2 separate regions of the Homo sapiens genome follow, and region 1 is linked to region 2. Evidence: fine-mapped expression QTL. A gene starts in region 2. The other region holds a variant in brackets. All regions are shown on one strand. Distances are between the middles of the regions.

The links. PIP is the estimated chance that this variant, and not a neighbour inherited with it, causes the effect.
Region 1: its variant is fine-mapped to the expression of PNCK in tibial nerve (GTEx, PIP 0.97).

What each region holds. Positions count from the first base shown.
Region 1 is chrX:153,944,812-153,953,231 of GRCh38, reverse strand. HCFC1 (host cell factor C1) reads left to right here. Exons shown (of 26, transcript NM_005334.3): 19 at 274-718; 20 at 1,074-1,391; 21 at 1,525-1,643; 22 at 1,745-1,882; 23 at 2,234-2,419; 24 at 2,689-2,989; 25 at 3,616-3,679; 26 at 3,846-5,675. The coding sequence ends at 3,885. Among named protein-coding and RNA genes, the nearest start is that of RENBP, 4.4 kb to the right of the region's middle. RefSeq lists enhancers at 4,968-5,507, 7,674-8,420 and a silencer at 8,347-8,406. The variant C/T (reference allele first, on the strand shown) is at 4,178.
Region 2 is chrX:153,666,116-153,681,031 of GRCh38, reverse strand. PNCK (pregnancy up-regulated nonubiquitous CaM kinase) reads left to right here and starts at 7,219. Exons shown (of 12, transcript NM_001366977.1): 1 at 7,219-7,252; 2 at 7,954-8,023; 3 at 8,335-8,466; 4 at 8,832-8,906; 5 at 9,014-9,152; 6 at 9,360-9,483; 7 at 9,672-9,747; 8 at 9,842-9,954; 9 at 10,036-10,114; 10 at 10,201-10,288; 11 at 10,438-10,582; 12 at 10,902-11,299. The coding sequence starts at 7,956. The coding sequence ends at 10,575. It also overlaps the pseudogene RN7SL687P. RefSeq lists silencers at 10,010-10,265, 11,494-11,543 and enhancers at 12,753-13,252, 13,253-13,754.

The sequences.
Region 1 (8,420 bases), 280 kb before region 2:
TTTAACATGGGCTGGAGCTGGCCCATCAAGAATGAAAACTTAGGCCCACAAGGAAAGGTGAGGGCTGGCTTGCTTCTCAGCCCTGCTGCCTGGCTCTGGCCCCTCTCCTCCCCTCTGACAGGGGCTTCTCTCCCTTTCTAGAAGATCTCATCAATGACTGAGACTGCCCCAAGGGCTCTGACTACTGAAGTCCCCATCCCGGCCAAAATAACAGTGACCATAGCCAACACAGAAACTTCTGACATGCCCTTCTCTGCTGTTGACATCCTGCAGCCCCCAGAGGAACTCCAGGTGTCGCCAGGTCCTCGCCAGCAGCTGCCGCCACGGCAGCTTCTGCAGTCGGCTTCCACAGCCCTGATGGGGGAGTCCGCCGAGGTCCTGTCAGCCTCCCAGACCCCTGAGCTCCCGGCCGCCGTGGATCTGAGCAGCACAGGGGAGCCATCTTCGGGCCAGGAGTCTGCCGGCTCTGCGGTGGTGGCCACTGTGGTGGTCCAGCCACCCCCACCCACACAGTCCGAAGTAGACCAGTTATCACTTCCCCAAGAGCTAATGGCCGAGGCCCAAGCTGGCACCACCACCCTCATGGTAACGGGGCTCACCCCCGAGGAGCTGGCAGTGACGGCTGCTGCAGAAGCAGCTGCCCAGGCCGCAGCCACGGAGGAAGCCCAGGCCCTGGCCATCCAGGCGGTGCTCCAGGCCGCGCAGCAGGCCGTCATGGGTGAGTGCCGGTGCAACCCTGGGGAAGCCGGGCCGCTCGGGGGAGCAATAGGCCGCGGAGACAGCCTGGGAAGAGGAGCCCATTTCCCTCGAGGGTGGCATGAGCCAGATGTGATGGGGAGGACGAGCACAGGGGACCCCAGGCAGGCCAAGTAGTAGAGACTGCCGTGTAGAACAGGCTGGCTGGGGTTAGCGCCTGGGAAACAGGCAGGGCCCCTCGGCCAGGGCTTAGCCTACAGTGGAGCACGGTAGGAGGTGGACGGGGTCTCTAGGACAGGCTTTGGGGGCCTCCGCCCGGGCTGCCCGCTTCTGGCCAGCCTTCCTAGTAAGTAGTGTTTCTCTCGACCCTGGAGCAGGCACCGGCGAGCCCATGGACACCTCCGAGGCAGCAGCAACCGTGACTCAGGCGGAGCTGGGGCACCTGTCGGCCGAGGGTCAGGAGGGCCAGGCCACCACCATACCCATTGTGCTGACACAGCAGGAGCTGGCTGCCCTGGTGCAGCAGCAGCAGCTGCAGGAGGCCCAGGCCCAGCAGCAGCATCACCACCTCCCCACTGAGGCCCTGGCCCCTGCCGACAGTCTCAACGACCCAGCCATTGAGAGCAATTGCCTCAATGAGCTGGCCGGCACGGTCCCCAGCACTGTGGCGCTGCTGCCCTCAACGGCCACTGAGAGTAAGCGACTGAGGGCGAATTGGTGCTGGGGTGGTGGGGGCACCCAGGGAGGTGAGGGCAGGACGGGAGGCTCGGTCTCACTTGGGAGCCAGGTTTCCCGAGTCTTTCCCGCTGACACCTTCTTTCTTCCTAGGCCTGGCTCCATCCAACACATTTGTGGCCCCCCAGCCGGTTGTGGTGGCCAGCCCAGCCAAGCTGCAGGCTGCAGCTACCCTGACCGAAGTGGCCAATGGCATCGAGTCCCTGGGTGTGGTGAGTCGGGTGTGTTGGGGCTCCTGAGTCCGTGGCCTGGGGGGCAGCACTGCCTCTAGGTGCTGAGGGCCTGATCTCGTCGCACCGATTCTGTCTTGCAGAAGCCAGACCTGCCGCCCCCACCCAGCAAAGCCCCCATGAAGAAGGAAAACCAGTGGTTTGATGTGGGAGTCATTAAGGGCACCAATGTAATGGTGACACACTATTTCCTGCCACCAGATGATGCTGTCCCATCAGACGTAAGTGTCCCCAGGTGCTGATGTCCTCAGGTGGGTGGGTCTTGGCTCCACCACCCTGAGCGGGGCTTACAGGAAACTCCTCCATCTTTGGGCCAAGCTGAGTAGCCAGGAAGCCTGAGGAAGGTGGGCAGAGACCATCCCCCCTGAAGCAGTAGAAAAGGAGAGCTTTGGTTCCTTCCCGCCAGTACCGGGCCACAGTCAGCCTCGCCACGTCCCTCCTTGCCGTGAGGGGCCAGCCACCGCTGACCTCTTTTCCCTCTGGCCCATAGTTACCATGGACCTGCAGTGTTCCTGGGGTGGCCCAGAGCTGCCTTCTCCACAGTGGCGTTCATGCCACTCCTCTTTTCCTAGGATGATTTGGGCACCGTCCCTGACTATAACCAGCTGAAGAAGCAGGAGCTGCAGCCAGGCACAGCCTATAAGTTTCGTGTTGCCGGAATCAATGCCTGTGGCCGGGGGCCCTTCAGCGAAATCTCAGCCTTTAAGACGTGCCTGCCTGGTTTCCCAGGGGCCCCTTGTGCCATTAAAATCAGCAAAGTGAGTCTTGCTGTGGGGTGGCCGTCTGTCCCTGGTTGGTTTCTGCCTGCCTCAGCACATGAGGTGGCCGGGGGGGGGCATAGGAGAGCTAGGTTTTGAGTCCCAGTTTGTCTTAGTCCTTCCACTTGGGGGAAGATCTCTTTGAAGCTCCTTGAACTACCACATGGAATATCTCTACTGTGTTAGAAAATGGCTTATGGGAACCATGATTAGTCAGTTCTGGAAGCCTCTAGCCTGTTCTGTTGACCTTCTGACCCCCTGGCTTCTAGAGTCCGGATGGTGCTCACCTCACCTGGGAGCCACCCTCTGTGACCTCCGGCAAGATTATCGAGTACTCCGTGTACCTGGCCATCCAGAGCTCACAGGCTGGGGGCGAGCTCAAGAGCTCCACCCCGGCCCAGCTGGCCTTCATGCGGGTGTACTGCGGGCCCAGCCCCTCCTGCCTGGTGCAGTCCTCCAGCCTTTCCAACGCCCACATCGACTACACCACCAAGCCCGCCATCATCTTCCGCATCGCCGCCCGCAATGAGAAGGGCTATGGCCCGGCCACACAAGTGAGGTGGCTGCAGGGTGAGTGTCCTTCGTGGAGCTCTTCAGGCACAGGGAAGGCCCAGGAAGCCGGGTGCAGCAGGAGGAACTGTCACCATCTGAGATTTTTTCCCATGTGCGGCGTCTCCCTGCTTCCTTTGGCGCGCACACAGCCCCCCACGGGGGTGGCCATCAAGTAGAGCAGGGGACCCAGCTCCGGGCCTGGGGGTGCAGGGGACGCCACCCCAGGATGTTTGAGGGGACAAGCAGTGAGAGGGCTGGCGGGAAAGTGTAGGTTTCCAGGCCCGAAAACAGCACGTCCCAGGTCCCTGGAGTGCAGCAGGTGAGGGATGGAGGCCAGCCTGCCTCCTGTCAGGTCATGCTCCTGCTCCAGCTCCCCTGGGGCTCTGGGACCTGGGAGGGCAGTGAGAGGTGGGAGCTGAGCTGAGTGGGTTTCTAACCTACGTCCAGAGGGGAGTGAGTGGTGTCGTGTTCTGGTCCCAAGGAGTGGCGTAAAAGGTGACCACCCATAGGGCAGGCGCCCCACCCTTGCCAGCTGCGGGTCATGCCATGTGGCACCAAGAGACTCTGCAGGCGGGCAGGGCGCATGTGTTCCTTGCTCTCGTTCTGTCACAATGCTGCTCACGCATCTCTCCCGTTCCTTCCAGAAACCAGTAAAGACAGCTCTGGCACCAAGCCAGCCAACAAGCGGCCCATGTCCTCTCCAGAAATGTAAGCAGGAAGCCCCTCTCGGGAACCTTCTGAGACTAGGGGTGGAAATAGCTGGGTTCAGCCTCTTGTCAAATGACTGGGGGCCCCTAACCGGCCCTGCACCAGCAGGGCCTCCAGTGGTGCAGGGCCCACACTAACTTTCTCTTTCCTTTTTCTGCCTTCCAAGGAAATCTGCTCCAAAGAAATCTAAGGCCGATGGTCAGTGAGAGGAAGCTGACTAGCCCCTGGATTCTTCTCCAGACCCCCCTGCTTCAGGAACACCCGCCAGGGCCCACCCCTCCCACCCCGTCCCAGCATTCGCACTTCACCCTCGCGAGCCGCTGTTCACTCCTCTCCCCTTTCTCTTTCTCTCTGTTTTTAAAATAATCTAAAGAAAGCACATTTTACCATTGCTGTTGGGAGGAAGCAGAGGCAGATGGGAAAGCAGAGAGAGGAGCGCGCTTCCTTTCCTCCCCGCTGCCGCCCACCCTGGGGAGAGACTTTTGCGGGGAGGGAAGG[C/T]GGAGCTGAGGACAGCCAGCTCCGCCCTCCCAAGGCTGTGCGTTCCTGAGGGCCAGGTCGGGGGCAGGCATGGAGGGGAGGAAAGGCGTCCCTCTTGGCCCTCCCCAGAGTGGCTTTCCTGGCACCCTGGCCTGGGTGTCTGGTTCTGTTTTCTTTTCTTCCCCTTGTGTTTCCAGTCACCTAACTTCCCTTCCTCAGGCTCCCCCGGCCCACCCTGCTCAGTGACCCCACAGGAAGCTTACACATTTTCTCAGAGGCCTTTGTGCTCCCACCTCTTCTACCCTCCCCCTCTTCTTTCCCATTTTAAAAAAGAAAAGAAGGAAAAAGAAAAAAGGGGCAAGGAGCCCCGCGGCGGCCTGGGCAGCGCCTGTGCAGACCTCCCTGCAGGCCGCACTGCCAACTGCTGCATTTGTTGTGTTTTTTAGGTTGCAATTGGTGAAGTTCACACTTTCATTGTAATTTTAGCGTGTGGGGTTTTGTCCCTTTTTTGTTGTTGTTAGCTGTGTACAGAATGTGTAATCTTTTTTCTTTTCTCTTTTTTTTGTTTTGTTTTGTTTTGTTTTTGTTTTTTTACTTTTTTCTTCTTGGCTAATTCTTGGCAGGGATCTTTCTGGAGGAAAAGCTGGGGCCAGCCAGGGCAGGAGAGGTGTGAAATCTGCCACGAGGGGCCTGCTGTTTGCCACCCAGCCCAACTTCCTGTTGCTGGCCCCTGCCCTCTGCCCTTTTGCCTGTCCTCAGGCCGCTGGAACAAAGGAAGGACAGCTCATTCCTCATGGGCGATCACTCCGCATCTATAGGGTCGAGCCTAGGGGAGCTTGAGGGAGGGCTGGGGCCTCCTTGTCCTGGATTTCCAGCTCTCCCCATGCCCCCTCCCTGAGCACCACCGGCACCGCCTCCCAAACAGGGCTGCTGGTTTCCGCAGCCACTGCTCCACCTCCCCCAAATCGTCATGGAAAGGGTGGAGAATGGAGGGGAACCAGGCGTCCTTGGAGGCAGCTTGGGAGGGTGACTGTGTAGTGTCACCCACAAGGGAGGCTAGGGCAATGGAGCAGGCCACCAGCAGCAGCTGTGCAGCATGGAACTCAGGCCAGGCTCCGAGGCTGGGGGATCTGCTTGGAGTTTTCTGCCCCCCACCCCAAACTTCTGTCGAGGAGCAAGGCTTGCCAGCAAGTCAGAAGGATTTGAACCGAGCAGCCAATCTTTCCAGCCCTCCCCTACCGACCTCTGCCTGGAGACGCAGCAGCCTGTGTCCTCCAGGGCCTCTGGTTTGTTGTATTATAGTATATTTCGCTGTGGAAAATGTCACGTTTAGTCACCTTGGAGCCCACTCACCTGGTCCTGTTGTTTTACCCCATCCCTTCTCTCGCGCGCCTATTGATTTGTTTCTGAGGAGAGTACACCGTTCACTATTGTAGAGTAACCCCTGTGACTCAATATTACCATAGTGCGATGTCGTTTTGTGCTATTTTGAACAATTAAAAGACTTTTTTTGAAATAACCACTAGGTGTCTCACTGTGTCCCGGCATCCTCTCAGGAAGCCTGAGCGGGAAGGCTGAGACCTGCCCGAGGCTCACGGGAGCCCCCTGGAGGGAGACCTGAGCTCTGGTGAAAGCGTAGAAGGCCCCAGAGTGAGGCCTCTGCTGTGGCCTCCGGTCTTTGGACCAAGTCGGACCAGGGTCCAGCAGGTTGCTTGGTAGCTGCCTTGCAGGGCAAGGGCCAAAGAGCCCCTTGGGCAGCTGCTGCTGACTTCCTGTGTCTGGGGCCCAGATCTCCCTCCCTCCCCTCCTGCACTAGAGGATAGGATGGGGCAAGGGCCTGGCAGGTCACCAGCGGCAGCCTCCTTGGGTGGGTTGGGGGGAGGTGGGCTGAGTCAAGTACACCACGGGTACTGCAGAGGTGGATCCCTTCCTCTGGCTTCCTCTTAAATGTGAGCCATGCCCCCAAGGGGAAGAAGCAAGAGCTTGTGATCCAGACTGACCACCTAGCAGCTGGGTCGGTAGGACAGCTGGGATCCCGTGGGCTGAATTTGTACCAGGAGGCCCAGAAAGCTCCGGGGCAAGGTGGCCGGAGCAGCACAGGCCTAGGCGGGTCTGAGGGGAGTGACACCCTGCTTCTGGGGCCTGGTGCTCCTGGCGCACCTGCATTCCCCGCCCCCTCCAAGCCCCTGCCGCCTGCCTTTGTTTCCCCTACACACCTCTACTGCCCAGCCTTCCTCTCAGAGCACCCAGGCACTCCGCTACCAGAAGCTCCTGGAGTAACCAAAGCCTCCGTGTCTCCACCTGTGGCATGGGTGTGTGTGCAAGGCCCTGTCGAATGCGACCTCTTCTGGGAAGCCTCTGTCCTGTGGGGTCTGCTGTGTCATGTGGGGGTGGGGGGAAGCAGACTGGCCAGGGCTTGACACCAGGAGCCATGGCTCTGTCTTACCCACCGCACCAACTGTGACCTGCCTTGGAGCCTAGCCTCGCAGAGGCCCAAGGAGAGGGGTGGGAAAGTGTCCTTCAGAGCAGAGCGGTAGGAGTCATGGCTGGGGCTGGTGGAGGCCAGGGGCCACATGGGGCTGGCCCCAGAACCGAGGGGCCTTGCGGATTTGCCATACCTTTGGCAAATGGCGTTGTGGGCGCTTCGCCTGGTGGGGGTGGTACAAGGCTTCTTCCTACCCCACTTCTGTAGCTGGCACCTGTGGGGCTACCCACCCTCCGCATTCCTTCAGCTCACTTGTCTCACCGCGGCTGCATCACACTCCACAAGGCAAGGGCCACATCAGTCATGCCTCTGGTGTTTATCTGAAAATACCGCGTTTCCGTCTGAGGGCACCACTCAGTCTGGGGAGGCAGGAGGGAGGCTGGACATGAATGTGAACATGACAGGCCTGTGAGCAGGGCAGGTAGATACAGCCCGGCTGGGCACAAAGCTCATCCCCTGAGCATGAGCCGAGGCCGAGGGTGGGTGGGAGCACACAGAGGATGCCTCCCCAGCTGCCAGGGCATCAGCCTCATTACCAAGCACCCCAAAGGGGAACTGTTTGGGGTTGGGTGGGTCAGCCTGCAGCAGGGACTGAGACAGCCACTGTGGCATCAAAGACCAGCAGTGCAGTACCCACGCCCAGAGGCTGGAACCCATTTTGTGCACTGTTGGCCTGGAAGGTAGGAACCACCTCAGCCCAGCTGCCTTGTAGCATCATCGGGTCAGTCATAGAGCTACAGACAGATCTGGGCAGCTGGAAAACAGGCCCAGAGAAGGGGGGTGTGGGCTGTTACCTGCAGTTACTGTCTGGCCTTAGAGCTGTGTCACTTGTGTAAAGAAGTCAGTGCCAAGGCCGAGCGCGGTGGCTCACACCTGTAATACCAACACTTTGGGAGGCCGAGGCAGGTGGATCACGAGGTCAAGAATTTGAGACCAGCCTGGCCAACATGGTGAAAAACCGTCTACTAAAAAAAAAAAAAAAAAAAAAAAAAAAATTAGCTAGGCATGGTGGCAGGCACCTGTAATCCCAGCTACTCCAGAGGCCGAGGCAGGAGAATTGCTTAAACCCGGGAAGCGGAGGTTATAGTGAGCCAAGATCATGCCACTGCACTCCAGCCTGGGCGACAGAGCAAGACCCCATCTTGGGAAAAAAAAAAAAAAAATTAGCGCCAATGGCTGCCCATTACTGACTGTTGAGGTAGTTGGTGACAAACTGATTCAAAAGAGAGGACTTGCTAGGCTGGGTGCGGTGGCTCACGCCTGTAATCCCAGCACTTTGGGAGGCTGACGCAGGAGGATCGCTTGAGCTTAGGAGTTCGAGACCAGCCTGGGCAACATTGCAAAACCCTGTCTCCACTAAAAATACAAAAATTAGCCAGGCATGGTGGCCCACACCTGTGGTCCCACCTACTCAGGAGGCTGAGGTGGGAGGATCGCTTGAGCCTGGCAGGTCAAGGCTGCAGTGAGCTGCCTGGGCGACAGGACACTGTCTCAAAAAACAAAGAAACAAACAACAACAACAACAACAAAAACAGAACTTGCCTCCTGTCTACCCTGTGTGGTGACAGGTCAGAGGGACCTCTGCATTCAGGCCCACTAGCTGTTCCCTGTCCTGCTGCACCCCTGCCCCACAGGCTTGGTAGGGCCAAGGCCCTCAGCCGCCCTGCCGGGGCCCCTGGTGTAGGGCGGGGTGGGTGGCAGCCCCGTTCCCCCTCATCCCAGACCCTCCGGCCATCCCAGCTTTTCCCACCAAGCAGGATCTTGAGACCAGAGCTCCCA
Region 2 (14,916 bases):
TTTGAGACAGGTTCTCACTCTGTTGCCCAGGCGGGCGGACAGTTGTGTGATCTCCGCTCACTGCAACCTCCGCCTCCTGGGCTAAAGCAATTCTCCCACTTCAGCCCCCCAAGTAGCTGGGACTACAGGCACCCACCACCACGCCCGGCTAATTTTTGTATTTTTTGGTAGAGACAGTTTCACCATGTTGGCCAGGCTGATCTCGAACTCTTGACCTCAGATGATCCACCCTCCTCGGCCTCCCAAAGTGCTGGGATTACAGGCATGAGCCACCGCGCCCAGCCCTGAAGGCTAGGTTTTTTTTTGAGACAGAGTCTCACTCTGTTGCCCAGGCTGGAGTGCAGTGGCACAATCTTGGCTCACTGCAACCTCCACCTCCCGGGTTCAAGTGATTCTCCTGCCTCAGCCTCCCAAGTAGCTGGGACTACAGCTCTTTATCTGTCATATGTGAGCCCGTTCTTGCATTGCTATAAAAAAAAAATCTGAGGCTGGGTAATTTATAAAGAAAAGTGGCTTATTTTGGCTCATGGTTCTGGAGACTATACAGGAAGTGTGGTGCCAGCATCTGCTTCTAGTGACACCCTCAGGAAGCTTCCATTCATGGTGGAAGGTGAAGAGGGAGCCGGCATATCCATGGCAAGAATGGGAGCAAGAGAGTGAGGGTGGAGGAGGTGCTAGACTCTTTCAAACAACCAGATCTCGTATGGACTCAGAGCAAGAACTCACTCATTATTGTGAGGACGGCACCACGCCATTCATGAGGGATCCACCGCCATGACCCAAAAACGTACCATTAGACGCCACCTTGAACATTGGGGATTATAGTTCAACATGAGATTTGGAGGGGACAGACATCCAAACCGTATCACATCACCACCACCCAACCAACACACATACATTTCAAAGTTGACACGTACAGGATTTCAGCAGATGTTTACACAGTTGCAAAGGGTGTAATTTCTTTTCTCTTTTCTTTTTGAGTTGTGCTATCACTCTCTGGTTGCCAGGGTGGAGTGCAGTGGCATGATCATGGCTCACTGCAGCCTCCAACTCCTGGACTCAAGTGATCCTGCTGCCTCAGCCTCCCAAGTAACTGAGACTATGGGTACACACCACCACACCCGGCTAATTTGTAAATTTTTTGAAGAAGATGGGGTCTTGGCAAGGTGCGGTGGCTCATGCCTGTAATCCCAGCACTTTGGGAGGCCGAGGCAGGTGGATCACCTGAGGTCAGGAGTTCGAGACCAGCCTGGCCAACATGGTGAAACCCTGCCTCTACTAAAAATACAAAAATTAGCTGGGCATGGTGACGGGTGCCTGTAATCCCAGCTACTCGGGAGGCTGAGGCAGGAGAATCGCTTGAACTCAGGAGGCAGAGGTTGCAGTGAGCTGAGATTGCACCACTGCACTCCAGCCTGGGCAACAGAATAAGACTGTGTCTCAAAAAAAAAAAAAAAAAAAAAAAGAAAAGAAAAGAAAAGAAAAATCCCAACTCAATAAGAAAACAACCCAATTTAAAAATGGGCAAAAGATCTGAACAGATGCCTCTCCAAAGAAGAAATACAAATGGCAAATAAGCATATCAGAAGATGTTTAACAGCATACATCTTTAGGGAATTGCAAATTAAAACCACAAGGAGATACCGCTGCATACCTACTAGATAGCCAAAATCCAAAACACTGACAACTCCTAATGCTGGCGAGGACCTGGAGCAGCAAGAACTCCCACTCATTGCTGGTGAGAATGTGACGAGGTACAGCCACCCTGAAAAGCGGTTGGCAGTTCCTTCCGAAGCTAAGTATACTCTTACCATACAATTCAGCAATCACACTCCTTGGTATTTACCCAAATGATTTGAAAACTTATGTCCACACAAAAACCACCCCACATATATTTATAGCAGCCTTTTTTTCCTTAAAGACCAGTGCGATAGTATTAGCAGCTTTATTCGTAATTGGCAAAAACTGGAAGCAATTAAGATGTTCCTCAGTAGGTGAACAAATAAAATGTGGTATATCTGGACAATGGAATACTAGTCAGTGATAAAGAGGGGAAAGCTATGAACCCATGCAAAGAAATAAGTTAATCTTAAATACATATTGCATAGTAAAAAGCCTGACAAAGCTACCTACTCTATGACTCCATTTACCTGACATTCCGGAAAAAGCAAAATAGATTAAAAAAAAAAAAAAAAAGACAGAAAACGGATCCATGGTTGCCAGGGGTCTGAGAGAGGGGATCGTGCTTGGTAGGCGCAGCACAGGGATTCTGTAGCACAGGGAAACTGTTCTGTATGATGCTGTAATGGTGGACACGTGACACTCTGAATATGTCAAAACCCATAGAACTTTACAGCAGACAGAGGGAACTTAAAATAGGCATCTGTCAGACTAAGAGCAAAAGGAAGAACACATAAGCGCCGCACTCTAATTGATAAGATCACCCCCCACCAGGGTAGAGGTGAATGATTCTGCAACCTCTCCACCTTTATACCGGAATTCAAGAACTACGGCAATGGATGGAAGACGGTGGGAGCCAGGTTTCTCACTTTAATTTTAATTTTTAATTTTATTTTTAGAGACAGGATCTTGCTGTGTGGCCCAGGCTGGAGTGCAGTGGCACAATCATGGCTCACTGTAGCCTTGACCTCCTAGGCTCAAGAGATCCTCCTAACTCAGCCTCCCGAGTAGGTGGGACCACAGGCATGCACCACCATGCCTGGCTAATTTTTCATATTTCTGGTAGATTTGGGGTTTCACCATGTTGGCCACGCTTGTCTTGAACTCCAGATCTCAGATGATCCATCTGCCTCAGCCTCCCAAAGTGCTGGGGTTACAGGCATGAGCCACCGTGCCTGGCCTGGGTTTCTCACTTTTAGAGTGGGAGGTTATAGACAAGCAAGGGCAGGCAGCTAGAATGACCCAGGTGGTGATGGATTAGAGTTGGAGACATCAGTGTGCACTCCTGTTGAGTTTAATATAGATACTGATGCGCGTGTGTATCTGTTTATAGATGTTATGTTAGTAACATAACATGGGTTGGTATATATATTAAATGGGTATTATATGGGCTTGTATATCTATCTATCTATATGTACATGGGTTAGTGTATATATATACACTATATATACTACATATCTATCTATATGTACATGGGTTAGTGTATATATACACACTATATACAGACTATATATACACTATATACACTATATATATACATACACACTATATATACACACACTATATACACACTATATATATACACACTATATATACACACTATATATACACACTATATATACACTATATATATGCACTATATATATACACACACTATATATACACTATATATACACACTATATATATATACACACTATATATATACACTATATATATACACACTATATATATACACTATATATATACACACTATATATATATATACACTATATATACACACTATATATACACACTATATATATATACACACTATGTATATATATGTATATACACACACACACTATAAGTTCTTGCTGTCAGTGGAGAGGGCCTAGAAGCAGCAATACTCCAGGAACAATGGGCACACCTAGCGCCCAGATCTTCGTCTCCAACACCATTCTCTCAAAAATGGCTCCTTAGAGAAAACGGCTGCTTCTAGGACCGGTTCAGGAAATATAAGGGATGAGCACAGAGCCAGAAAGTAAGGAAGGGCTCACAGAGACAGACACGCCCACACCTACACGGGCATGCACACACACATGCAGTGATGAACGGACATCAAAAGGACACAGGTGGCTGGGCGCGGTGGCTCACGCCTGTAATCCCAGCACTTTGGGAGGCCGAGGAGGGTGGATCATCTGAGGTCAGGAGTTCGAGATCAGCCTGCCAACATGGTGAAACTGTCTCTACCCAAAAATACAAAAATTAGCCCAGCGTGGTGGCGGGTGCCTGTAGTCCCAGCTACTTGGGAGGCTGAAGTGGGAGAATCGCTTGAGCCCAGGAGGCGGAGGTCGTAGTGAGCGGAGATCACACAATTGCCTGCCAGCCTGGGTGACAAGACTGAGACTCCATGTTAGAAATGTTTGTTCCCCGGTGGCACAAAGAAATAGCACTTGAACATAAATTTAATTTTCTTTTTCTTTCTTTCTTTCTTTTTTTTTTTTTTTGAGATGAAGTCTCACTCTTGTGCCCCAGGCTGGGGTGCAATGGCACGATCTTGGCTCACTGCAACCTCCACCTCCCAGGTTCAAGCTATTCTCCTGCCTCAGACTCCCAAGTAGTTGGGATTACAGGCGTGAGCCACCATGCCCGGCTAATTTTTACATTTTTAGTAGAGACGGGGTTTCACCATGTTGGCCAGGCTGGTGTCGAACTCCTGACCTCAGGTGATTTGCCCACCTTGGCCTCCCAAACTGCTAGGATTACAGGCATGAGCCACCACACCCGGCATAAGTTTAATCTCCTTAGCAAGGCCATTTTTTAACTTTCTGCGGAAAGGGTACACTCGCCAGCAGTTTTGCCACATGAGTACACCAAACAAAGGAGGGAAGCAATTTTTATTCCTTATGCCGTTTGTCCTTGCTACTGTGTCCTGTTTCCATTGGCTGCAGCCAGACCTCACAATCTAACCTAAAACCCGATTGGCTAGTAGTTTAAAACTTTTGAAAATAGATAAAAGTAATGGAAGGATAAAGGAAAAGAGGAAGTTGCTTACGAAACGGCTTAGAAAAGTAATAATATTCCCCAATAGGAAAGGGAGATAGGCTGCGAGCTGGGACATGCCTGTGAGCACGTCCAGCACAGATATCTTGGTTAAAGTACAAGGACATAGAATGTACTACGTGCCTGTAAGCATGTTTAACAGCTACATAGGATAGGGCTTAACAAAGAGTTATTAGCACAAAGCAAGGAGGCTTGAAGGAAGTTAGTCTTTAAAAGAAACTATTATTTCTAAACTTATGATTTATTTTTTAATAAGAAGGGAAACTTTGAAGAGGAACTTTTTACTTTCTACACTCCATCTCAAAAAAAAAAAAAAAAAAAGAAAAGAAAAAAAAGAAAAGAAAAGCTATGTTGCCCAGGCTAGGCTGGAACTCCTGGGCTCAAGTGATCCTCCAGCCTCAGCCTCCTGAAGTGCTGGGATTACAGGCATAAGCCACCTTGCCAGGCCGGAGGGTGTAATTTCTCTTGTAAACACACAATATAGGCCTGGTGCGGTGGCTCACGCCTGTAATCCCAGCACTTTGGGATGCTGAGGCAGGCAGATCACCTGAGGTCAGGAGTTCGAGACCAGCCTGGCCAACATGGTAAAACCCTGCCTCTACTAAAAATACAAAAATTAGCTTGGTGTGGTGGCATGCACCTGTAGTCCCAGCTACTCGAGGCTGAGGCGGGAGAATTGCTTGAACCCAGGAGGCAGAGGCTGCAGTGAGCTGAGATGGCACTACTGCACTCCAGCCTGGGCGACAGTGAGACCCTGTCTCAAACAACAACAACAATAACAAACCAAAAAAAACCCCATGATACAATGATTCAAACAAAAACTGTGCCATCAGCTTTTACATGAGGCCAGGGCCACCTGAGTCACCTCGTGGACCAATACCTGCCCGCTGGCTCGTCTTTCCCAGGCCCACTTTGGAGGTGGGTGCTTTCCTTCTGGCCTCCAGTTTCCATCTGCTGCCCCTCAGATAGGTCTCTTTGTGCCATCTCTTTCCACGCGGGCAGTTTTTTATTACTTTTCTGGGGCACAGAAATATGTGTATTTCTATTTCTTTTTATAACCCAGGACCATGTTGTAGAACTCTGCTTGGGCAAAGCACCATTGGCGTATTAGACATTCTGGGGAACTATCTGTAGGTATCTGTAAACAAATTGCACTTCCTGCTGTCATGAGAAGGGGCTCACCATCAGTTCCATTCCTATTTTTTTCTGTTTTAGATGTCGGTCCCAGGAAACCATTTTCACATAGAGGAGCAGGTGGGACTGGAGTTTCTGAGTGCTGGGGTCCCTGGAGCCTTCTGCAGTGTCCTGGGAGGGGTGACTGGGAAAGGCCAGGGGGCAAGAGCTGCTAGGGGCCTTCTCAGATTTCCCAGTTTTTACACAGAGTATATATGGGAGTTGAGGTCTGGAAAAATGATTTTTTAAAAACTCTTCCTGCCCCGTGGACTCTCTTGAAGACGTCGTGTCATGCCAGGGCCCACGGTCACTTGACGGAACCCTTGTGATGCTGGCCACAACCTCATGGGACTGGATGGCGAGCAGCGAGGGGGGTCCAGTAACTGTTGGATGCAGGATTGAATTCGGTCACCCGCACTTATTTCCTGGGCTCGTCTTGGTTGGGTTCGCGGAGATACACTCTCTGGGAGCGGACGCTTTGGTGAGGAAGACCAGGCGAAGAAGGTGATTTTTGCGGTTGGACGTTCTAAAGACAGGGCAGGGTTATGCGGAGAGAATTGGCAGGGGCAGGGCGGGGGAGGCCGGTTTGAGGAGGGGACATTTGAGCCGAGATCTGATGGAACGAGGAGCCAAGCCAGGCAGATATCTGATCGAAGAACATTCCAGGCAGGGGAGCAAAGGCTAGGGCCGTCAGGAGGCCAGTGTGGCCGGGGAAGAGGTGGAGGAGGAGGGGCCAGGGCAGTCGTTAGGCCGCCCCCTAAGGACTCATGCTTTGACTTGGATTGACATAGAGAGCTGCAGGAGGGTGACATGATCTCAATAAAAGGAATGCTCTGGCTGCTGGGTAGAGAAGAAAGCGAGGGTGAGGGATTAATGGTGGAGCCAGAGGGAGCCCAGTGAGTGCCGGGAGCCCAGGGTGGCAGAGCTGTGGTGCAGGGTTGCAGGGTCCTGGAGCTAGGCATGGAGGCTGCTTTCGGGCAAGTGGCCGGGTCAGCCTGTCCTCGGAGAGGCGGTGAAGGCAGAGACTGGAAGGCAGAGAGCCTTGCCGACCTGTGGCCGAAGAGCTCTCCGGGAGACAGCCACCGGTGGTGCAAAGGCCCTGGGGCCGGCCCAGCCGGGCCGCAGCTCCGGGAGGCGGCGCGAGCGAGCAGTGGGCTGGGCGGTGGCGGCCGGCACCCGAGCCGGATCCCGGCGATTGCCTTACAAGGTGCCCTGCGGCGCCGCGGCCGCGCTGGGCCACTGCGTGCTTGGGCGGCTGGCGGGGGCGTGCGCGGAGGGGGCGGGGCCGGCGGGGCGCGGGCGGGGGGCTTGGCGCTGCGGCCACTGCGCGGCACGACGCTGCGGCACCCGCTCCAGGTCTGCACCTGCTCCGGGGCGCGGGGACGCGCGGGGCGGGGGCGCACCGGATCCGGCCCGCGGCCGCCGCAGCCTTGCGCGTCCGCAGCACACCTGTCACGCCTGGCGCGCCCCCTGCCCGCACGCGCTCGGTCCACGCAGCTCGGGACGCGGGCGGCCCAGGCTGCCAGGTCCCCCTGCTCCGCGGCGCCGAGGGCTGGGCTGCGTCTGCGGCCGCGTGGGTGGCCGCGGTCTTGGCAGGTGGCTGCGCGCGGGGGTCGCAGGTGCATCCCGGGCGGCTTGGTGGCTTGGGCAGCGGGTGCCTGTGGGCGCTGTGCCATGGGTGGCGGGTCTAGGCGGGGGTGGGGGCTTGGGCGCTGTAGATGTGTGGATGGGGGAGGGACGGCGTGGGTGAGCATGGAGCCTTCTGGAAAGCGGCCGGATGTGTGGAGGCAGAGAGGCAGCATCCAGGCGCTGGTCGCCTTCGGGGTGCGGGGGAGGGTGCGTGGGATAGCAGCTGTAGGCCTGGGATGTGGAGGCGTGTATGCGGTGGCCTCGCTGGGAGGCGTCCGTCTGGGGGTGTGGACCTGGACGGGGGAGGGGAGGGTCGAGCGCGCAGCGGCAATGGCTGAGGCCTGCCTGGCAGGGGGTGGAGGAGGAAGCTGCCCTTGCCCCCGGCGGGGCGGGGAGAGACCCCCATCACCTCTCCCCTGCCCCTGCAGACATGCTGCTGCTGAAGAAACACACGGAGGACATCAGCAGCGTCTACGAGATCCGCGAGAGGCTCGGCTCGTGAGTGTGCGCGCGCGTGTGTGATCGTGTGTGTGTGTGTGTGTGTGTGTGTGTACCTGTGTGAGATGGCATGTGTGTGTGACTACGCGAGTGGGTGTGAGATGATGTGTGTGTGTGTGAATATGTAGGGGTGTGTGAATGTGAGTGAGTCTGTGAGATGGCATGTGTGAGTGGTGGTGGGGGGTGGCACAGGGCCAGGTAGGGCCTCCCCATCTCCTTCACAGGGGGCCCTCCCCGCTCCACTCTCTCTCCCTCCTGCCTCTCCTCTCTTCCCACTTCCTTCCCACCTCCCACCGCCCCGTCTGCGGCAGGGGTGCCTTCTCCGAGGTGGTGCTGGCCCAGGAGCGGGGCTCCGCACACCTCGTGGCCCTCAAGTGCATCCCCAAGAAGGCCCTCCGGGGCAAGGAGGCCCTGGTGGAGAACGAGATCGCAGTGCTCCGTAGGTGCGCACCTCGCGGGGCCCTGGGACGGGGCATAGGTCGATGGGGGGGTGCAAGCAGTCCTTGGCTCTAGTCCAGGCCTGGCCACCAACCTTTGGGAGGCCTGGGGCAGTGCTCTCTCTGGGCCTGCACATCCCTGTGGCAAAGGGAGTGAGTTGATATTGATCTGTGCTTTTCAAATGGGCTTTAGAAGGAAGGCCGGGGCTCAGGCTGGAGCTCTGCCTTCCTGGACCGGGCAGGGGTGGCATGTGGTAGGGAATGGGGAGCAGAGGTGGGAGGAAGAGAAGAGGGAGGAGGCTTTCCCCAGGGCCTCAGGACAGAGCACCCCTTGACTCTGTTGGCCCACAGGCGCTTCCTTGCCATTGCAGGATCAGTCACCCCAACATCGTCGCTCTGGAGGATGTCCACGAGAGCCCTTCCCACCTCTACCTGGCCATGGAACTGTGAGGAGGGCCTGGGCAGGCTGTGGGAGCCGGGGAGGGACTGAGCAGTGAGTGGGGCTGAAGGCCAGGCTGAGTGCCTGGGTCAGCCAAACCCCTGGCACCCCCAGGGTGACGGGTGGCGAGCTGTTTGACCGCATCATGGAGCGCGGCTCCTACACAGAGAAGGATGCCAGCCATCTGGTGGGTCAGGTCCTTGGCGCCGTCTCCTACCTGCACAGCCTGGGGATCGTGCACCGGGACCTCAAGGTGCCTGGCTGGGGCCTCTGCACCCCACCCTCCCACCTGCCCACCTGGCCCTGCCTTTGTTTTCCCGGGAGCACGGCTGGGGCCTTTCTTGATCTCCTGCTCCACCAAGGCTCTGGGGAACCTGAGAGTGCCTAGTCCCCATCCTGTCCCAGCACCGGCACCGCGTCAGGACTGACTGGCCCTTTTCCCGGTGTCCGTGTGTCACAGCCCGAAAACCTCCTGTATGCCACGCCCTTTGAGGACTCGAAGATCATGGTCTCTGACTTTGGACTCTCCAAAATCCAGGCTGGGAACATGCTAGGCACCGCCTGTGGGACCCCTGGATATGTGGGTGAGGGACGACACCCTGAGGCTTGCTGGGAGTGGGGTGGCCTGGGGGACCCTAGACAGCCGGGAAGGCTGTTGTGCCCGTTGCCTTTGTGTGGGCCATTCCTGGGCTTGAGTAGGCCGAGCCAGTGACACTGAGCGGCATGGCTGCGTGTGTGCCTGTGCGTGCGTCTGTCTGTCTCTGGCCCCCAGCCCCAGAGCTCTTGGAGCAGAAACCCTACGGGAAGGCCGTAGATGTGTGGGCCCTGGGCGTCATCTCCTACATCCTGTGAGTGACCGCTGGGAAGGCTTGTCTCCTGCCTGCCTGCCCCTGCTGGGTTGGGGAGGGTGGGACAGCTGGATGATTCATCTGTGGGTGCCAGGCTGTGTGGGTACCCCCCCTTCTACGACGAGAGCGACCCTGAGCTCTTCAGCCAGATCCTGAGGGCCAGCTATGAGTTTGACTCTCCTTTCTGGGATGACATCTCAGAATCAGGTGAGCTTGAGGCTGGCCCGTGCTTGGAGGTGATGCAAGGGAGTGGGGACCTGACAGGCTGACCCAGCCTCCCTGTTCCAGCCAAAGACTTCATCCGGCACCTTCTGGAGCGAGACCCCCAGAAGAGGTTCACCTGCCAACAGGCCTTGCGGCACCTTTGGTGAGTGGGAGCCCTGCTGAGCTGCCCCAGGGCCAGGGGGCCTGCATTTGCAGAGAGACCCCCCCTGACCTTCAGCCTTTCCCCAGGATCTCTGGGGACACAGCCTTCGACAGGGACATCTTAGGCTCTGTCAGTGAGCAGATCCGGAAGAACTTTGCTCGGACACACTGGAAGGTCAGTGTGGAGAGAGACCCAGTGTGGTCGCCCGCCGCACCCCAGCTGTAGCCTGATCGCCGTGGCTGCCCAGTGACCACTGCAGTCCTCACAGTCTAGGGGCTGGGGCCTGGGCCCAGGCCTGGCCTGATCTCCCTCTCTTCTGGCAGCGAGCCTTCAATGCCACCTCGTTCCTGCGCCACATCCGGAAGCTGGGGCAGATCCCAGAGGGCGAGGGGGCCTCTGAGCAGGGCATGGCCCGCCACAGCCACTCAGGCCTCCGTGCTGGCCAGCCCCCCAAGTGGTGATGCCCAGGTGTGTTTGGGTGGACCCTGCACGCCCAGGAGCTGGCTCCTTGGAGAGCTTAGAGGGTGGTGGCGCTCCATGTGGCCAAGAGCTAAGTGGGGTGGCCCCCACAGGCCAGAGGACTGAAGGCAGAGAGCAGAGGGAGGAGCCAGGGCCCCAGGAGAGGTGGAAGGACAGGGAGGGCCAGTGGGTGCTTGACATTGGGCAAGGGGGTGCAGGGGGAGAGGGCCTCTAAGAAGTCCGGGATTTGACCGAGGCGGGGGGTGGGGGCACAGGGCTGGCAGGCCGGCTCCTGACTACCCCCTTTCCCTCTGCTTCTCCCTCTCAGGCAGATGCCGAGGCCAAGTGGACTGACCCCCAGATTTCCTTCCCTTGGATGCTTTCGGTCCCCTCCCCCAACCCCTCCCCCTGGGGCTGGCCTCTGCTGGATTTTGAGATTTGAGGGTGTGGCGCATGGCGCTGGGGTTGGAATGGGGCACCCCCAAGTCTGTCCCCAGGCTCTGCCCTGCCTGGGGGCAGTGGCTCCCCTCCCCTGTTGCCTCTCCCGCCCCTGCCCCCCCCGCCCCGCCAAAAGCCGAGGGGGTGCTGGCAGGCGGGCCTCAGGGGCTGTCTTTCCTGCACGGCTGTTGTGTGCTTCGCTGAGTGTGGGTGGTCCTGCTTGTGTCATGGTCATGGCCTTCCAGCCCCCTCCAGTTTTCCCCAAACCAATAAAGAAAGATACAGCAATGGGCCAGTGGTGACCTGGGGGTGCGGCGAGTGTGGAGGGGACCTGGTCACTTGTGGGAAGGAAACCAATGAGAGCCTGCCACACGGCTTCGCCCACTGCCACCTGAACCTCTGCTTCCCCAGACAAGTTTCCAACTGTCCAAAAACTTCCTGTCCCCTCCCCCCAAAGCACCAACAAGTGGCAGCGTGGCCGGGCAGCTCTGCCACCCCAGAGGTGTAACTGCCCAGCCTTGGGGTCCTGGGACAAAGTGGAGGCAGCGCACGCCTGCTGGGCTGCCAGCAGGGGGCGCAGTCAGGAGGCTGAGTGCTGGCTCCAGACCCCCAGGGATGTGCTCCAGTGCCCCTGCCATGCAGGGCCGGGCCTGGGGTGCCTCAGCCAGGTGCCTGGGACTGGGAAGGGCTCACAGGTGCATGGAGGGCGACCAGAGCCCAGGACTGTCACCTTCCATCCCTCCCTCCCTTCCCTTTCTTGATGGCCAGAGGCCATCTTGTCGAGCAGAAGAGTAGGGGACCCCAGGGTCAGGGGGTGAGAGGAGCTCCTTGTCCAGGAGAGGGCGACACAGGGCCCTCTTCCCCTCTGCTGTGCGGGGGCTTTGGAACCCTCAGGCTCCAGGCTGGGGTAGACCTGGGCTGGCAGCTGGGGCTCTGGGAGCAGTGGCAGCTTGGCGGTGGCTTCTGAAGTGGAGAGCCGTGGCCTGTCCTCTGGTCTGAGTGGCCCCAGCCCCACCAACCTCCATTTTGGAGGGGCCAGGGCTCCAGAGCCCTGCCTTGCTGGGTCCCAAAGCTCTGCTGGCCCCTCTAGGCCTTTCTCTTGGGCCCATCAGGGGAAGACCCCTAGAGCCACTTCTTGGCCCCAGCGAGAGTTCCAGGCAAGCTGGCCACCCCTCCCTCCACTCTGAGACCCTTGCTCCCTGCCAGCCCTCAGAGTGTAAGCCTGATGACCCATGGCTTGACTGGCGAGAATGGTAGAGAAGATCACTCTCCTTGTTGAACTTTGGGCCCCAAAGGGAGGCGGTGAGGCTCAAACCAAGGCTGGCCTGGGTCTTGTGGGTGAAGGCTGGAGTGGGGTTCAGGGTTGGAGCCAGGGGACCTGGCTTCCACCAGGGAGAGCAGGCTGGAGGTGGGTGGGCAGCCTCCTCCTCCATCCCCACAGCCGCTCCCAGGCCATCCTTCGCTCCAGGCTTTGGGCCCCACAGGGGACCTCAGTCAGCCAGTACCACGGCTTCCTCGCCTCCAAGACCTGTCCCACCTGCCCTCACCCCTACGTGGGGCCTTGTTGCCTGTGGGCACCCCTGCTGTGGGCCCCCCTTCCCATCTTCTCTGTTGTTCACACTGGACTCCCACGATACCTACTTGCTGTTGTTTTGGTCAGATGTTGACTGAGCCTCTACTCTGGGCCAGGTGCTGGGCACTGACCTGGGCCTATCAGAAGAGGCGCCTGCCCTCCAGGAGGACGCCCTCTATTGGAGGGGTGGTTTTACGGGGATGATAAAAATGATCTTTGTGGGTCTGGGAGCAATGAGCAGGAGTGCCAGAGCCAGCCTTACAGAAGAAACCGGCACTCGCTCAGAACAGCCAGCTCTTCCAGTCCAGGCACGTGGCCAGATCGCTTCGGCTTGGAGCTTAAGCCAGCTCTGGGCTGCCTTGACACAGGGTGCAATATGGCCTCCCGTCAGCAGGGGGAGCCACGGCCCCATCTTTAGACGTCCATTAGCCTCCCTAGTTCCTTCAGCACCCTGGGCAGCCTCTCAAATCCATTCCTCTCCGCGACTGCCCCTACCCCACACCCTGCAAATCCTGCCTTGGGGAAGTCCAACCTTGGGGGAGAGGTCCTGCCCATCTGTGATAGGGGCGAGAGGGGGAACCCCCAGGTCAAGCAGAGGCGGCACCCCTCCTTCATCCCTCCGAGACCGCATATGAGGAAGGCAGTTTGGGTCACCTAGGCAGTGGGATGGCAGCCTGGGAGAGAGAAAGGACTGGTTTAGCCAAAGGCAAAAGGTGGTGTGTGTGTGTGAAGTGATGGCAAGGGAGCTGTGCTGGACACTGTGAGGGCTTCTCAGGCTCAGGGCTGGTGCTGAGGCTGGCAGCAAGAGGAACGGGCCAGACCAAGCCTGGCAGGGGAAGGAGCTGGAGCTGTAGTCTAGGAGCAGTGGGGAGCCATCGAAGGGGTTTGTAGCCAGAGAGCATCCTTGCCCAGTGTGGGTTAGGTGCTGAGCCGGGGCCGGCTGCTAGGAATTGGGGTGTCTGGAACCAGACCAGAATTGAGGGTCAGGGGAACCCTGGTGGGCATCACAAAAGGAAGCTGTCTCTGCTGTTCTGGGCCACACAGGGTGGGTCACGTGCTCTATCTTGAAGCAAACCTGTGGGTAGCGGAGTTTCAAGGGAAGCTCAACCTGTGGGTCCACCCTAGGGACAGGGAGACACGGAGGTGGTCCTAGGAGCTCTTTGGGAGTCATGTGGACAGGTCTTGGTGATGGGTTGCAGGTGGGGAATGAAGCGGGGGGATCCAGGTAGATCATGTTTCTGGCAGCAGAACATTCATCAAGAAGAGTTCAACGGGCATTACTTTGGGGGAGGAGTAATGAGATTGATTCTGGATGTGGTGAGTTCGAGGTGCCTGACGGGCATGAAAGTAGACTTACTTTTCACCCTTCTCTTTGCAAATATGTATCTAGCATTGTATCTGGTATTTCTGGAAGGCTTATTCCTTTTAATAAAAAGAACACTGATCCCTCGAGCCCAGGAGTTCGAGACTAGCCTGGGTAAGATGGCGAGAACCCACCTTTACAAAAAAAAAAAAAAAAAAAAAGCATGCTAGTAACGACTCTTTATTGAAGAGCTTTCCATGTATTAACTTGAACCTCACCTGTGAGATAGCTGCTATCATGATCATCATCCCCACTTCACATATGGAGAAACTGAGGCATACAGAGGCTAAGTGAGCCAAAGCCATACAGCTTGTGGCACAGTGAGGATTTGAACCCACACTCTGCCACTGCATCCTCTTGCTTGCATCCATGCAAGCGAGGTCTTGCTTGGGACATGATTGTGTGGGGAATTGAAGAAAACAAGGCGGCATTCTTTCCCCACTTCTCTTTGTGAATGCAAACTCTGTGTGTCTGAAGGAAAGAGAACCCTGGGCTGGGGGAACCCACGCTGGATTTGAGTTGGGGTCTTGCAGATGGTTTGTGTTGCCATTTTTTTTTTTTTTTTTACGAGATGAGGTCTCACTGTGTTGCCCAGGCTGGAGTGCAGTGGCTATTCACTTCACAAGTGTGATCCTACTACTGATCAGCACACGAGTTTTGACCTACTCCGTTTCCGACCTGGGCTGTTTCACCCCTCCGCAGGCAACCTAGTGGTCCTCTGCTCCCAGAATATTGATGCTGAACTTAGTACGGACACCTGATGGACATAGCACACTACAGCCCAGAACTCCTGGGCTCAAGTCATCCCCAACCTCCCGAGTAGCTAGGACTACAGGTGTGAGCCACCATGCCACCTGGCTTGTGTTGCCTTTAAGCTCCTCTGTGCCTCAATTTTATGTCCTGTTAAGTGGGAACCAGGGAGGTCTTTGCACAGTGGTGGAAATGGGGCATGGGAGCTGGGCCCTACAA